Regions from separate parts of the Homo sapiens genome. Here region 2 is linked to region 1. The links come from fine-mapping of genetic effects on gene expression. A gene starts in region 1. The other region holds a variant in brackets. All regions are shown on one strand. Distances are between the middles of the regions. Region 1 holds the start of VAC14 (VAC14 component of PIKFYVE complex). Region 2 overlaps VAC14 (VAC14 component of PIKFYVE complex).

The links. PIP is the estimated chance that this variant, and not a neighbour inherited with it, causes the effect.
Region 2: its variant is fine-mapped to the expression of VAC14 in whole blood (INTERVAL, PIP above 0.99).

What each region holds. Positions count from the first base shown.
Region 1 is chr16:70,798,935-70,804,451 of GRCh38, forward strand. VAC14 (VAC14 component of PIKFYVE complex) reads right to left here and starts at 2,224. Exons shown (of 19, transcript NM_018052.5): 1 at 1,863-2,224. The coding sequence starts at 1,966. It overlaps HYDIN (HYDIN axonemal central pair apparatus protein), which reads right to left. Exons shown (of 86, transcript NM_001270974.2): 86 at 3,150-5,517. RefSeq lists enhancers at 1,910-2,532, 2,200-2,259 and a silencer at 1,930-2,119.
Region 2 is chr16:70,690,892-70,695,891 of GRCh38, forward strand. VAC14 (VAC14 component of PIKFYVE complex) reads right to left here. Exons shown (of 19, transcript NM_018052.5): 17 at 4,653-4,732; 18 at 1,930-2,080. Among named protein-coding and RNA genes, the nearest start is that of MTSS2, 7.3 kb to the left of the region's middle. RefSeq lists enhancers at 1,295-2,122, 2,123-2,948, 2,949-3,774, 3,775-4,600, 4,601-5,000. The variant C/A (reference allele first, on the strand shown) is at 2,001.

The DNA.
Region 1 (5,517 bases):
TTAAGGAGTTCACAGTCAAGGCACTGCTGAGTTTCTCTAAATTCCACAAATCAAGGGCAATGTCCAATACAAAATGAACTCGATCAAAGACAAAACCCTTACAGAACTGTGTGCAGAGTGAGAACAGATACACAGGTTGCGCTGGAAGCAACAATAATGTTGAGATGAATACCTCTCTCTTCAAGGACTCAACAGACGACTCAAGCTACAATAAAACCGGATATTCCTGAGAAGCAGAGTGGGTGAGGGACAAAACTAGGTGTCAAGGCAACTTCAAAGCCAACAAAACCCCATGGACACGGAACCATGCCTATATATCATTTCTGGGTCCCTCTATTCAGTATGGCAATGTGCAATAAGACTTGCTAGCATTCGTGAGAGTCAGGCATAAACAAAAAGCTATATAAAAGGAGCAGTCAAGAAAGTGGTGTCTGATGAGAGAAGCAGCTAGATGGTTGTGGACATACTGAGTATGAGAGCTGAATGGAGGCAGGGTGGGGGATTTCTTATCAAGGTCCGAACCCTTTAGTTTAGGAGGAAACTAAAATCCAAAGCAACATTTGATTTGGATTGCAAGCAGCAGTTGTCAACCGGGGCAATTTTGCTCCTTCAGGGGACATTTAGCAATGTCTGAAGACATTTTTGATTGTTACAACGGATGGAGTGCTACTGGCATCCAGTGGGAAGAGGTCAGAGACGCTGTTAAAAATCCTGCAAGGCACAGGACAGCCCACTACAACCAAAAATCATCTGCCCCAAAATGTGAATGGTGCAGAGGCTGAGAAACCCTGAGTTAAGGAATTTGCCCCAGGTTAACGAATGAATGTCACACCACGGAATAGATTAGAGCAGTCCAATAGAGCATTCTGCAATGATGGAAACAGTCTATAATCTGTGCTGCCCTATATAGCAGCCAATAGCTACATGTGGCTATTGAACACTTGAAATACGGGTAGTGTGACTGAGAAACTAAAGTTTAATCTTTAATAATTTAAATTTATAATAGCTACGCACGGCCAACGGCTACTCTACTGGACAGAACAGAAATACAATTCACCTTTTCTGACTCGCAGACTGGTATTCTTCCAGTTTCACAGCCTGCTTCTTTCCAATTTTCTGAAATCACTCACTCACTTGACTTTAACACTAAAATGTGACTGGGAAAAAACCCACAAAAGTAAAATAATACTGCAGAAAAAAAAATAAATAAAACATCCCCAGTTAAACTTTCGCTGTTTTGTACATTGGGAAATAAAGTAAAATATCAGATCATTGTTACACATACATGTAACAAGACTGCAGAAGCAAGAAAGGTCAAATTATTTCTACTTCCACTTGCAGGGAAGGGTGTTATAACACAGATAAAACAAAAAACTCTCTGAGCCTTGAGATCACGAGTTTTCCGACCTGATTTCTCTACTTGGTCACTAACAATCTCCTTCACTTCTCAGAAGCTGGGTAAGAAACCAGGCTGGTCAGCATCACCTGCAAATTCTCCGGCTTCTGACTTCTCTCTCACCACAGAGACAACTCTCTGATTTGCTGGTTTGGGTGGCACCGCACCGAAGACTCACCATGTGCCATGCACTGTGCAAAGCACTACCCATACATGATGTCACTTCATTCTCACTGCAGCCCTTTGTGGCACCGGGAGGTTAAAAAGCTGGGACCAAATCACACAGCCAGTCAGGAGTAAAGCAGGGACTCCCAGATATGGCTCCCAATCTGCTCTTAAACACTGCGCTAAGGTAAGGGCCTAAAACCTGGGAAAGTAACCCTGGCTGGGAAGGCGTGAGAAGTCCCCCTGGGGAGCAGAGCAGTCAGGGGCTGCATAGCCAGGGAGGGGTCCTGGCGGCTCTTACTTCTCGATCTCCAGCGCTGCCACCTTCCGCTTTTCGTACAGCTTGTCATTGAGGGCGCGCACGATGTTAGGCGTGAGCGGCGCGAAATCCTTCTCGGGGTTCATGGTGGCAGCTGGGGGAACCTCGCGACTCCTTAGCCCGCGGCTGCCGGGGCCGCGCCGGGGCCAGGGGAGTCTGCGGCTCCGCTCTGCCCCCGGCGCCGGCGCATGGACCACGCCGCTCTAGGCTTGCCTGCCACGCTCCGCCGCCTCGCCCTGGAACCCGGGCCCGGACCCCGCTCCAGCACACCTGACCCTGGCCGCTTAACAACTCCCGCCCGGCACTAGCGGGACTCACGAGACAGCGGCCATGTTACTCGAGTCACATGACTCTACAGCACTTCCGCCTTCCGTCGCGAGGGCCCGCCCCTCTCCAGCCACGCCCCCACCGCAGGCCGCAGGTGGATTGGCCACGCCCTCGGAAGGCTCCACCCACACTGCACACACTATCGCGCTGCGCGCCAGGTAGCTGGAGTGTGGTTTGAGACGTGCTTTAATGGGTGTGTAGCTCACGCCCAACTGATGGCACGTGGTGGGCTTCTGTAGACGTTCGTAAGACCGAATGGGTTCTTGGAGTCTGATTCACTTAACATAATTTATTCAATAGTCACCGAATTCACTAGTTCATTCAGTAGTTGGTCACTTACCAATTTCCTAGATGCAGACGTTTCCCTAACTGCAGTAACACTGTCATCACTTTCACCATATTCTAGCCACTTGTATTATCTATTTAATGTTTTCCTCAAATCAACTCACTTTAAAAAATACCTTAAATCTCTTTTAGCTTTGCTTATGCCCTAAAACCATGAGTTTGAATAGGTATATTTTTTCTAAGACACATCAAAATAAATTCTCAATTAAAAATGGCACTACCTGTCTACCACCTAAGATCTCAGGTACCACCAGTGTCTGTCACTCCACCATTTGGGGGTGTGTTTAACATGCTCTGATGCCTAGGAGGGCTGGTTACAGACAGAGAGAAAGGCCCCAGATCTGCTGAGTGCGGGTCTCTAGATAGGTCCCCTGGAAAGCAGCCCCTTCAGCTGCTTCGGGAATCACATTACATGGTGAGACAGAAATCCCAACTATGTGGCAAAATATTTAAAAGCAATTTATGGCCGGAGTGTGGTAAACATGCAGTTAACAGGGAGGTGCATCAGCCTTTCCTATCATAAGCTTTCAGAGTGAACAGGGACTTAGGACAAGGGCTAGATTACAGTGGAGCTCAAAGAATAACAGTTTCAGAATGCATGGTGATACTTTTCTTTAATGAATGAAAAGTGCATATATAGGCCTTATAACAGTCTTGAAAATGGAGTATTTTCCTCAACAGAAACAGGGACGCAATGAGTAAAGGGCAAAAGTAGGCAGAATTCTAGGATGACCTCCAATATTCCCACCCCTTCGTGTTCATGCCCTGTATTATGCCCTCTTTCAGCGTGAACAAGACTTGTAAATATGATGGGCTATGCATCACTCACATGATTATATTATGTAATATCGCAGAAGAGATTTTGCAGATGTAATTAAGGTCCCTAATCAGCAGACATTGAATTAATAAAAAGAGAGATTAACTTGAGTCGGCCTGACCGAATCAAGTGAGTACTTAAAAGAGATTAGAAGAAATTTGAACTGGAAGAGAGACTCTCCTGTAAGGAGTTTAGTCATATGGCCACAAAGGAATGAATTTTGCCAACACATTGAGGGTCCTTGGAAGCAGATCTTTCCCTAGTTGAGCCTCCTGATGAGGATGCAGCTGGCCAGCACCTTGATTTCAGCCTTGTGGAACCCTGAGCTGAGAATCCAGTTCACACTGGGCTCTCAACCCATGGAAACTGTGAGATAATAAATTTGTGTTGTTTTGCTCTCCTAGTTTTGTGGTAATTTGTTATGCAGCCATAGAAAATGAATACAAAGGCTAATCCAAAACTCGGCAAGTCATGGATATATCATGTCTAGAAAAATCCATAAAAAATGTATTCTCCTATACAGGTGGGGTTTTCATAGTTGTTAAAACCTTTGCTGACACAATCCTATGAATGAAGGTAGGTGCGCTAACAAGTAGTAGTAGTGCTGCCAAGGACATCTCCAAATGTCTTGCAAAGTTTGGTTTTAGGATTTTGATGATGGTTGATGAAAAACACTGAAAAAATGTAAATCAATGGGAATGATTTGGTTCTATTTCTCCAATGTGTGTGCATTTCCACGGGACGCATATCTAATATATTTCATGTTTCTTTTGCTTTTTGGTTTGGCTTTTTCTTAGAGGTGAACTGAATTTCCCAAGGGTAATGATACAGTTTTTAATAATTCAAACAATAAGGAATTTTTTTTTTACCAGAAGTATTCTTTTCTCCTGAAATTATATTCTGGCTCAGGTTGCTAAGTAACCAGTTTTTTATTCAAGGCCCAGACCAATGCCTACCTTTAGGTCAGAAGTTCCTAGAAAGAAGTGGTTCTTTTCTCTAATATCTTGAAAAATGCCAACTAGGTAAGATTATTTATGCATAATTGAGCTAGCAGTGGTGGTAAAAATAAAGCCCAAAGGCTACCCTTGCCTTCCACCCTTGTTCCTCTTCTCTGACCTGTGACCATTCCTGTTGAAACTCTTCTAGACTAGGGGATAACTGATGTGCCTGACTGCATACTAGTCATTATTTCACAGTTACAATTCATCTGCATCTGTGTGATGCTTGGTTGTTATGCTAGAACTTGTAATAGTTCTGTAACAACTATTCATAATAGCTATTACAAGTATGTAAAAGTTATGACATAACTTGTAGCAAGAGGCTGCTGATGACATTGTAAGAAATTGTACCAAAATCTTGAACTGTGCAAAGCAGTTTCTCCAACAGCAATGTAATTGTAGCTGGAGTTTCAGGGCAACAGGGTTTAAGGTATTAGGTAGAGGTCTTGAAATGTAGCAGGCCCTCACCAATGTTACAGTATTGTCACCTCTGACTTGAGGCTCCTAAAGAAGTGGTTAGACTTAGCATGCCACACTCACTGGGGGCCCAGTGTGGAACGAGGCCAGGGAGCCCCATTCCCATGGTATTCTGTGCACAGTGCTCCTTGGAGTTCTGCCACACAGCTACCCTGACATTTTCTGAACATCCCCCAGTTAGAAGTCTCCTGGTCTGCTTTGCTGAGAATGGATTCTCCAATGTAACTTCCACAAGCATGTGTTGGAAGGGTTATTTTCATCAAGCCTGCTGTTAAGCTACTTTGCCATTCCAAATTTGCTAATATAAGACTATTTTGTTATTGTTTGAGGCTAAGGAAGCACGAGAAAAACCTAAAGGGAAGAAATGCACCCAATCTCAAACCAGCCTGGAAGAGGGTTCACACTGGGGCAGGATCTGAGCTTGGCTCTTGGTCCCAGGGAGAAGGAACTTCCTCCTCTCTCAGGGGCTAGGAGGATTTGGACCCTAGACTCAGTGGTGTTATAGGACCAACACGTTTGTGTGCCCACTGTGCAGTAACAGACCAATGCACAGAGACAGTGGGGATGCAGCAGAGAAAGTGATGATCAAAGGTCACTGAGTGATGAGATGGGAGGAGACCCTCAAATCCATCTCCCGGAAGAGTTCTGGACTGGGGTTTTTAAGGGGATCCTG
Region 2 (5,000 bases), 110 kb before region 1:
CTAGGGGGTGTCTCACACACCCATTTAGTCCAAATGTGCATTTACTGACCAAGTAACCAAGAACCCAGAGAGGGCACTGGGCTTGCTGGAGGTCACACAACAAATCCATGGCAGAGCTCACACCAGATCCTACTCTAGGCCTGCAAAGCATCCACTGACCCTCAGAATCTTCTACCCAGAGGCCTCAACCCCTTGGCTCAAGACTTCCCTGACTGACCGTGGGAGATTCTGAGGAAAGCCTCATTTTCCCAGCTTCCCTCTGCAAACTTGTTCTACCCTGGTTTGAGGAGTCTGACTGCTCTGAGCCTCTGCTCCCCTCCCAAGACGAGGAGATCAGCACTCGGAGACCCGGGAGAGGCTGGGCTGGCTCCCTGGCCAGGAGGACTCCCAGGAAGGCAGGCTGGTTCCCACAGGGAGACTGGAGGTCACAGGGAAGCAGCCCTTCCTGCCTCCTCCCTGCTTCCGGCTGCACCTTCCCCTCCTGGGTGCCTGCCAGGTTGACCCTAACACTATGGGGCGTTGAAGGGCCAAGGCAAAGGCTGGGCCAGCAAGGCCCGGTGTGGCTTCTAGGCCTCTCTCGGAGTCTCTCGGGAGCTGACAGCACTCCGGCCCCAGGAACCCACACATGCGCCCCCGCTCCATGGCTGACCCTGCTCCCCTGGGGACACTGCATCAGGTGCTGTCTTCTGGGGACCACCTGGCAGCACCCTGAGCAGCTGGGGTGGCAACCGGCTCAAGGCCTAGTCCTGCCACTGCAGGGCACTGCCTTCTGGGGAAATGGGGCAGGGAAGGCACGAGCCGGTCTTGGTTGGGGCCACACTTTCTAGGGGTTCAGCCTCTCCAGCTGGCCTGGGGCAGAGAGCCTATCAGGTGCCCCACACTCAGCCATCCGAGGGCCAGTCTGGGTGGGAGGGGCAGTGGGAGCCGATGCCAGCGGTGTGGAGGGCACAGGGCCTCCGGGCAGGCCTGTCTCAAGGCTGCCTGTGTCCATCGCAAAGGCGAGCACCCGAGGCCCTTTGCTGGAGCAAGGCGCCAGGCCTGCTGAGTGGCTCTAACAGCCTGGGAGGGAATTCTAGACACACAGGGCATCTGATGCAAGCTGGGCGCGCTCCATTCAGCGTAAATCTTCTCAGTGGCTCTGCTGGTTTCCATGGCGACCTGACAAGTGAAATTTTCCATCTCGGATGCCAAATGCCTGTGGATGAGGCAAAGCCTCCAAGGGTTACCAAATATAGATGCAGCCCTACAGGCTCTGGGGTAGGGGCCAGCCGTGGGTTCAGGGTGGGAGCCGGCACTCCTCTGACCAGAGGCTGCCAAGCTGGGCCTCTTGGTGGAGGGGTGCCTAGGACCTGTTCCTTCCATGGGCAGGACCTGAGCAGGGGAGCCTTGAGTGTACCCCTGCCTCCCACCCCACCCCGGAAGTGGCTGAGAAGGTCCTAGCAATGATGGGGTCTCCCAGTGACCCAGGGTTGAGCCTCTGCCACAGACAGGGTGGGGAGGGGCTATGTGAGGCCTGGGAGGTGCCCAGCACAGACAGCCACTGGGGCCCCCATCTCTAAGCTGGGGCAGGAACTCCTCCCCCTGCCCGGTGTTTCTCTCCAGGGTCCTCTGTCTGGGTAACTCCAGATGCCCTCAGAGTTTTTAGATTTTGCATAGCCTCACTGAGCTGGACCCTGATTGCCTGGAAGTGTTGCTACTCCCGGCCACCGTGTGAGGGCTCCCAGAATCCCTTGCTCGGTGCTCTGATGTGGACACAAGAGGCCAAGGGGCAAGTGGCTGCGGGGGGGATGGTGGTCACAGTGACAAAAGGGGTGGGATGCTGAAGTGAGGGAGGCCTCAGCAGCCCCTGGCAAGGCCCTTCCTCACCAGGCTCCTCTGGGCCTGTCCCTGCTCAGGGGGCGGGGGCAGCAGTCCCCAGCCGGCACTCACTCGGTCTGCAGCAGCTCAGGGTTGGGCACGCACTGGAGCCGGTGCGAGAGCAGCTGGAAGGCGCTGCTCTG[C/A]GGCAGGAGCATGAGCAGGCCGTAGAGGGCCTTGATCAGGTAGGGGTTGTTCTTCACGTCCAGCAGCTGCAGGCGCAGATCTGGGGTAGGCAGAGGGCAGGGGTCAGGGACCTGGCACTGCTCTGGGACACGCCCAGCCCACACTGCCTGCCTCCGACTGGCCAGGACCACCTGGGACTTGGTGCCATGGCACCCACAGCCCAAGGACCCAGCTGTGTGGACCCAGCCAGGTGGCTGTGGCTTCCAGCGAGTCAGGGGCTCCTTCACAGCCAGTCGCGCTGCCCCCACCTCCCCCAGGAGTGTCCTAGCCGTTTCCATGATCTCATCTTCCTTTCCACCTGCCCACCTGCCTGTCTGATCTTTCCAACAGTCACCTCAGCCCCACAACCCCGAGACACGCTGTGGGGCCTGGTCTGTTTCCCGCCCCCCGCTCAGCTGCCTCCCTGGTGATACGAGGGCTCGGGGCCTGTAGTGTAACATATTCTCCAGTTGGCTCCACACGTGCCAGCACGGGAGAGCTATAAATAGGGTGTGCTGGAGAGAAAGACGGTAGATTAGGACAGCTTTAAGAGAGGGCAGGATGGAAAAACGCCTTTGTGTGTAGCGAGACACACACCAAAGCCCCGGAGCGTCTGGGAGGTGCTTCTGGGGCTCCGGCTCACATGCCAGCCCTGCCACCACCCTGGCGGGGGAAAGAGATGCACCCGGGGGGCTGCCCAGCACTCATTCCAGCCCAAGCTGCAGCACGGACCCCGCTGGTGGCTGGCTGTACCACAAGGCAGTCCCAGCTTCCCCAAGGCGCACAGGGGAGGTGGGATTGGAAACGGGCTCACTTTTCTTCTGCGAGCCTCTCCAGGAGAATCACTGGCTTCTACTTCCTTGTGTCCCTAGGCCCAGTCCAGGCATTGTTTGTGGAGGATATGCCATGTGCTTTGGGAGAGGGACTATGTCACCCCTGGAGCGGCCACACAGGGGGTCCCGCTGACAAAGGGAACCTGAGCACCAGGCCTTAGGGCCAGGGTGTTGGTGCGCAGGGAGCAGAGGAATGGAGGCCTGCTGGCGCCCTCCAGAAGAGACCCCCACCACCACTGTCCTAGGCCTGGCTGCCCAGCAGAAGCGCGAGCCTGTTTCCAGTCCTTTCTTCCCTTTGGGCCTTTGGGAAGCAGGCACTGCCGGTGGCCACACCAGCCACCTCTAGGATCCAGGCGACTCAGGGCTGGGACGGTGTTGGGCGAGACCAGGGTGTGTCTCTCCTGTTACCCTGCCCCAGCAAAGCCCTGGGCTTGAGGAGAAGGTGCTTGGAGTTCCTCCAGGGTCAGGGAGGGAGGGCAGTCATCCTAGGGATGCTTCTGGAATGCCAAGAATGTACAACTGGAGAGATGAGTCAGGACAGACCAGCAGCAGGAGCAGGGTCTTTTTAGGATCTGACCTCAGGCGGCCGTGTGGGTGCCTGTGTCCCTGGGAGGCCCTCGGGGAAGTGTCACGCTGGGCACACCTGGGACAGGCTTTAGCGCACTCTGCGGAGAGCAGGGTCTCCCCCCTGCTCTTCTGTCTCCAGGGCATCAGTTCCTACGGCACCCTGCTGCTTGATGAGGCTGCCCTTTGAAGGGGGCTCAGGAGGGGATGGGAACGGGTGTTCTTCAGCCCCTGCATTCAATTCAGGCTCCAGGGCTCAGGCTGATGGGCTTAGGCCGGGCGGGTCAGAGACGCTGCCAGAGAGTGGGAGAGGCCGGGTGGCCAGCTTGGCAGGGAAGGTGGCCACCAGCAGAGTGGCCTCCTGGCTTCTCTGCACATTATAAGCACATAAGCGTCATTCAAAGTGTGTATGTTGAGGTGCTGAGAGCTGTGCTCGCCCCAGCCAGCTGCCACTTTTGCACATTCAGCCTGGGTGTTACTAAGCAGGCAGCTCCTGCCCACTGGCTCCCAGCAAATGCCAACTCTTCTTTCAGAGAGGTACAGGCATGGCTCTTGGGCCAACAGGAGCACCTGCAGAGGGACTCGGGACCCACAACTTCAGAGAGCCAGAGCAGAGGCAGCAGACCCGGAGGGGTGGCTGGGGACAGCCCAGGGGCCTGGTATCAGCCTTCAAGGGGGTTCTGCTGTCAGCGCTGGCTCATGTCCAGGAGACTCACTGTGAGGGATACAGGCAGGATCCAGGTTCTGATGCCACGTGCCCCAGCCCTGCTCTGGCTGGCCTTGCAGGCCTATCATCCCAGTCTTTTTTTTTTTTTTTTTTCTGAGGCAGGGTCTTGCTCTGTCACCCAGGCTGGAGTGCAGTGGTACAGTCACAGATCACTGTAGTCTCAACCTCCTGGGCTCAAGTGATCCTCCTACCTCAGCCTTCTGAGTAGTGGTGACTATAGGCATGCACTCTCATGCCTGGCTAATTTTTAAAAAATTTTGTGCAGATGAGATCTCACTATGGTGCCCAGGCTGGTCTCGAACTCCTGCCGTTAAGAGATGCTCCAGCCTCAGCCTCCAAAGTGCTGGGATTATAAGTCTCACATTCTCAACATTCCAGAAGCTTCCCTGGGGTGACTGCTCTTCCTCCCTCCCCAGCCAAAAGAGACCAACTGGAGCTTGACTTCACCCACCCCACTCCAGGGCAGCCTTGGACTCATGGCGCGAGGTGTGGTGGGAGGTGGTTCTTACATGTGAAGATGGGGCACTCAATCAGCTGCACCAGCTTGTCCACCTCTGCGAGGAAGTCCACGGTGACCTCCAGGTCCCCACTGGGTGTGCAGTCAAGGAAAGTCTGTCTGCTGGGCCAGCACAGCCGCAGCTCACAGCACCACACGCCCTCCCCCCCTGCACCTGGCTTCCTGTGCACAGAGCCTGGTTGTGGTGAAGCAGGATTTGGCGCACAAAGGACACCAGGCTCTTCCCTGTTCCTCGCCTTTCTGTCCTAAATGGAACTCCCCTGTTCAGGAGTTCCAGGTTCCACTCTAGCAGCTGTCTCCTCTGCACCCTCCCGGGCTGGGAGAGGCTCTTATCACAGCG